Linked DNA regions of Homo sapiens: region 1 is linked to region 2. Evidence: fine-mapped expression QTL. A gene starts in region 2. The other region holds a variant in brackets. All regions are shown on one strand. Distances are between the middles of the regions. Region 1 has its middle 35 kb from the start of NORAD. Region 2 holds the start of EPB41L1 (erythrocyte membrane protein band 4.1 like 1).

The links. PIP is the estimated chance that this variant, and not a neighbour inherited with it, causes the effect.
Region 1: its variant is the best candidate, but not a certain one, in a credible set for the expression of EPB41L1 in esophagus mucosa (GTEx, PIP 0.59).

Annotation. Positions count from the first base shown.
Region 1 is chr20:36,084,685-36,087,587 of GRCh38, reverse strand. No RefSeq gene overlaps it. Among named protein-coding and RNA genes, the nearest start is that of NORAD, 35 kb to the right of the region's middle. The variant C/G (reference allele first, on the strand shown) is at 1,639.
Region 2 is chr20:36,153,571-36,156,473 of GRCh38, reverse strand. It overlaps EPB41L1 (erythrocyte membrane protein band 4.1 like 1), which reads right to left and starts at 1,734. Exons shown (of 22, transcript NM_012156.2): 1 at 1,578-1,734. It overlaps EPB41L1-AS1 (EPB41L1 antisense RNA 1), which reads left to right and starts at 714. Exons shown (of 4, transcript NR_147703.1): 1 at 714-878; 2 at 1,220-1,411. LOC124904893 (a long non-coding RNA gene) reads left to right here and starts at 2,028. Exons shown (of 2, transcript XR_007067572.1): 1 at 2,028-2,577. RefSeq lists a silencer at 1,796-1,995.

The DNA.
Region 1 (2,903 bases), 69 kb after region 2:
TGAGCCGAGATCACACCACTGCACTCCAGCCTGGGCGACAGAGCGAAACTCGTCTCAAAACAAAACAAAACAAAACAAAAAACAAAAAAAAAGAATAGACTGGGAGGCCATGGGAATGGAAAGCCAATGCAAGTGTGACTTGAAAGAGGCACTGGCACTAGGCTGGTAGTCAGGAGCTGCAGGTTCTAGTCCTGCCCCTGCCATTAACTTATTGTGTAGTCTCAGGTAAATCCCAGCCCTTGAGTAGATCCCTTCCTTTATTCAAATTTCAGAGATCCCATCTGTAAAATGCAGAATGATCTGCAATATCCTTCCTAACTCTGGATTCTGTGAATGGGAGAGAGATAATGAAGGATAACTGGGATGATGTATTAGAAAGCCTTCATACACTTCAAAGTAATAATATCATTAGTACAAGTACCATTGTTATTATTATTTCAAAGGCAGCCTCACCAGAACGTGGTGACTGGACTGGTAGGAGGGGACAGGACAGAGTCAAGTGGCCTGCATCTGTGGGTGGACAAGACACCAGGATCTCTGATCTTTTGGGAAGGTCAGCTAACCACTGTATCCCTCCCCCAAGATCTGTGAAGACAAACAGTATTCTGTGCCCTGTCACCTCATTAACTGCTTCCTCATTCCTTTGAGCCACACCTTATACTTGGCTAAAAGAAGCAACCAATTCTAAGAAAAGTTAGCCTCTGTACTCCCTCCTTTCAATGTTCAAAAATGGGTCCTCGTCTGGGACTTTCCCTATATAATAATAAGTTTCATCATCTCATATAGGAATAGCCAACATTATTGAGTACTTAGTATATGTTAGGAAATTTATTTACATAATTTTCTCACCCTGGGAGGTAGCTGTAATGGCTTATGAAGATCTATAACTTTCTCAGTCACATAGCTTATGAGAAGGATTCCAGTACAAGTCTGTGCGATTTCAAGGCTGCATTCTTAAAGATTTTTTTTTTTTTTTTTTTTTGAAATGGAGTCTTGCTCCATCACCCTGGCTGGAGTGCAGTAGCACTATCTTTGCCCACTGCAACCTCCATCTCCCGGGTTCAAGCGATTCTCATGTCTCAGCCTCCCAAGTAGCTGGGATTACAGGTGCCTGCCACCATGCCTGGCTAATTTTTGTATTTTTAGTAGAGATGGGGTTTCACCATGTTGGCCAGGCTGGTCTCGAACTCTTAACCTCAGGTGATCTGCCTGCCTCAGCCTCCCAAAGTGCTGAGATTACAGCCGTGAGCCACCCTGCCCGGCACCCTAAAGATTTTTACTATGTCTTTTTGTAGCAACTTAGGGAGGAGGGCAAGATCAGTGTTGTTGCCACTTTATAGCTGGGGAAACTGAAGCTCAGAGAAGGTAAATTCTGTCATTTGGACAAATTAGTAAAGTCTTCTATGGTGCAGTTTGGTGCTGTTTCTACTTCTCAGAGCTTCCTCCTCTGCACCTTCCAGGACCTCCCCAGTCCTCCTAGGAGTGATGAGTAGAGACTTGCCCAGACTACTTAAGGGAAGGACTTACACTTGTCCTTCTCCTGGGGAAGGGAAAGGTTCCTGAAAGGTGAAAGTTAATTTCCACCTCCCCTCCCCACCCACCAACTCACACACCCTAAACCAGGACCTTGTGGTGACC[C/G]GCGCTGAAGGCTTACAGAGTGAGTCATGCGGGGCTGACCTGTCAGAGTCACCCAAGCACAAGATACTAAGCTTAGTTTAGAGGGGTGGAAAAGTAGGCAAAGTGCTCTCATCCTCAGGAGCACAGTCCACTTGCAGCTTGTGCCCCTCACTCCTTTCATCCCAAAATACTGCAAACATTTGGGAACACTGTACAAGGGCCTTAGAGCAGAGGGAACACATGACAAATAAGAGTGAGTCCAAGGAGTTGAGATTGGAGTGGAGCCTTAAAGAGTGAATTCAGCACACAAATTAGGTAGAAGGGCCCTCCAGGCTGCAGGAATGCCCTAAAGCTTAAATATATTTGGATTCCATCTAACAGGCAGTAGGGAGCCATGGAGTTCACTATGGCTTTGGAGACTGTCTGAGTTTGAATCTGCCTCTGTCCCTTCCCAGTGGTTTGATCTTGGGAAAGTTACTCAACCCCTGTGGTTGACGTATTATTTTTCTCCATTATTTGCCCTTCCCTTGGCCAGTAAGAGAATTATCCATCCTAGCCAGTTGCCATGTGACTTGTGTACCTTCCAGAGGAAGGAGTGCACTTCCCCAGCCCATTGTCAAGCTTAACCACATGACTTCCTTTGGCCAATGAAATGTGAGCTAGAGAGATACATGCCAGTTCGAAGCAGAAACTTGGAGTGCCATTGCATGTTTGAGTCTGAAATCTTACTTTTTTATCTCTGCCACTGGAAATGTTGTGTCTTGGATAGGGCCTGCACCTTCAGCCTGGACCCTGGAATGAAAAGACACAGAGCAAAGCTGCAGTGAATCTACAGCTGTGATGTGTAATGTGATGAAGAAAGCAATTGGCTTTTTGTAAGTCACTGAGAGTTTGGGGTTGTTTGTTATCACGTCATACTTAGCAAATGCTGACTGGCACACCTCTCAACAGTAGGTGATTTTAGTAGCATCTACCTCACGGCACTGCTGTGAGGATTAAATAAGATTATCTCATGAAAAATGTCTAACCATTTCATCAGAGATTTATATTATAAAATGACCACTCTGCCCACACATAAATGGACACTGGATAAACAACAGAAATAGAATTTGCAAAAGAGTAGCAAAAGATGATGCTATATAGTGGGCTGAATAGTGTACCCCGCAAAATTCATGTCCCCTCAGAACCTCAGAATATTAACTTATTTGGAAATGGGGTCTTTCCAGATGTAATTAGCTCAAGATTTTAAGAATAACTCATCCTGGATTTAGGGTGGGCCCTAAATC
Region 2 (2,903 bases):
CTTACTCTCTAGGCCCCGTTCAACCTTTCAATATCGACTGAGTGAGGACTACCTGACCAAGCATTGTTTTCATGCAGGATTCTATGGAAGAAGCTCTTCAAGAAGCTCACAGGGCTGAGCCCAGGAGGACTGTCACATAGCCCAGGAAGGGCTTTAATAGGAACAATGCCCTCTGCACTGATCTCCTCCAGGACTGCCTTGAGGTGCCCCTGAAATCCCAGGGACTGTGCTCTGCATGCCATAAATACTATGCCTGGGTTGCCAGGCAGGCATGACCTCAGGCTGGCCAGGAGAAGCCAGCTCCATCCTTGCACAGAGCTGGCAGAGCCTTCCTGGGCCACGGTGGCTCATAGGGGAGGCTGGCACAGGCTGCCTCTGCCGCAGGCTCCATCTGGAGGAATGGGTGGGCAGAGAGGCACACAGCTGCCTCTATTCTCCACACCCTTGCCCGGGACAGGAGGCACTGTCTTCCAAGAGCTGCGGAGGGCACCATCCAGGCCCCAGATCTTGACCTGGCTCAAGTGCCACTGATTCTGGAAGGCTCCTAATGCTGAGGGTGGGGGGATGGGGTGGGAATGAAGCCAAGCCGCTGGACCCCGCACAGCCCTGGAGAGGTCCTAAATCTGGCCGTCTCACATTCCCACCTTTGGGTGCAGAGGAGGTGCTATGCGGATCCAGAAGTGAATGTGGGAACACGTGGTGCTCTCTCCCCCACCAATGCATCCTCAGAGCTCCGAGGGAAAAGCAACGACGATGGCTGGCAGCTGAGGGAGAGACCAGCATCCCCAGAACTCCCTTTTGGTCCTTGTCCAGACTTCAAGGTCTCCATGGACCACTTTGAGCCATATACGTCTGCCAGTCAGTGGCCTCTGCACCCAGTAAGTACCCCAATGGCTGTAGACATTGGCCCCCCATGCCCATCCCTGAGACCCCAGCCTCTCGGGCCCTTGGACCTCCCCAAGTGTGAAGGTGCCAGACACAAGTGGGACACACAAGCCCTCTCCCTCTGATCAGGGGACGGTCACTGGCCAGGACAATGCCAGGCCAGAACTGCAGAAGTCCTAGGGCTAAGATCCCTCCTAGCAGCTCTGAGGTACTTGGAAGGGAGACGGAAGGGGAGGCAAGCCCAGAGCGGGGAAGGGTCCGTAACCAGAGTGAGGAGAGATGAGGGCAAGGGCTCGCCAGCATCCCAGGCTCCAGCCAAGAACTCCTCCTGCAGCGTCAGAAGCAGCAGAAATCCAAAGAGCCCTTGGCCTCTGGAGGCGGCAGCAGGAGTGCTCTCCGAAAAGAGACTGGGCCAGCCGGTGGGAGCCCAGCGCCCACCCACCGCTCATCCTACAGCAGGACCAACCCCCCGCCAACCCCCAGCCTCCGGATCCTCTCTCCAGGCCTTGGAGGAGGCTGCAGACCGGTAGGTAGGGAGGAACAGCGAGACCCTCCCCCACACTGGCCAGGGGACCAACAGCCTGAAAACTCAGTTCTCGGCCTCGCCCCCGTTCCTCCCCAGGGCTGGAGGCTGGGCCTAGATGTTGCAAGCCCCCGGCCCCGAGAGCCACCTGATTCCCCCATGTGCCTACCTGGGCCCGGGGTTCCCCATGTCGGGCAGGTTGGGCGAGGGGCGGCCCCCTCGGCTCCTCTGGCAGGCAGGCCGCGGGGCGGGGCGGCGCGGGGTCGCGGCGGGCTCTGCGGAGCAGCCTGTTCGGCGACACCCCCGCCCGCTGATGGATGCCGACTGCAGCAGCGGCGGCGGCGGCGGCGGCTCGGCGTGCGCCAGGGGCTGGGCACGGTGCCCACAGCCCCGGGCCTGGCGCCCGACGCGCGGCCAGCCCCCGCCCCCGCCCCGGCCTCGGAGCCCAGCCCAGGGGCGGCCGCCGCTTGCGCCTGCCTCCCAGCGCGCCGCGGCCCTGCCCCTGCCTCCGCCTCCTCTCTGCCTGTCTCCTCTACCACCCACCTCCCCCCGCGCCCCGCCCTCTCTCTCAGGCTCCCAGGCCACCTCCTCCCGGTCCGTGCCACACGGGCAGTTCCCAGACCACTGCGGGACTGTGCAGCTGGGGGGCCTCTCGAGCGCCCCGGCTGCCCCCACCCTGGTCCTAGCCAGCCCCGGGCCTCCTTGCTCTCGCCAAGCCCTCTTGGGGGCTCATCAGCGAGAAAGGGAGGGGGAGGAGAGAAGAGGGGGATGCATGCCTGACTCAGAAGGGGTGACTCAGCCTCAGTGGGCCTCCCATCCCACCGGAGCCGGATCCCCTCACCACCCCTGCAGCACAGCGACAGGGCAGAACCCGCCTAGGACTCGGCGTCCTCCCCCACCGGGAGGAGGTATTACAACTGTCTCCTGGGAATCCTCTGTGCCTCTGAGTGTGTCCAGAGGGTGTCTATGTGTACATTTGTCCACATGCGCCTTGGTGACAATGACAGTAAGTGTAACAGTGAGAGCCCAGGGACCTATTGGGGATGGGGCCTGTGTACAGGCGCACTTGCTGTATGTGTCTGAGCACAGGCTGAGTGTGCACCTGAGCTCCAGGAAAGGGCAGGGGCTGGCCAAGCAGCTTGTGGCAGAGATCATGGCTCAAAACCAAGGTAAGCCATGCTCCTCCCCTCCAGGAGCACTGTTACCCACTAAAAAAACCAGTCCAACCACTGCAGCACCTCCATCTCACACAATCCGAAGGTGGGGACCTCAAGCCACAGAGGACTCTGGGAGGGAGAGGGCCTGGGTTCCAGTCCAGGTCTGCCACTGGCTCAGCAAGTACCCTTGGGCAAGTTGTTCCATGCTCTGGGCCTCATTTGCAAATGACGAAAGGGCTGGACGTTCCTATCTCTAGGGTCCCTAGTTCATGGCGAAGGCATAGAGAGAATGGTGGGTAACCGCAGCATGATCTCCAAAGATTTCTGTCCATGGGTCC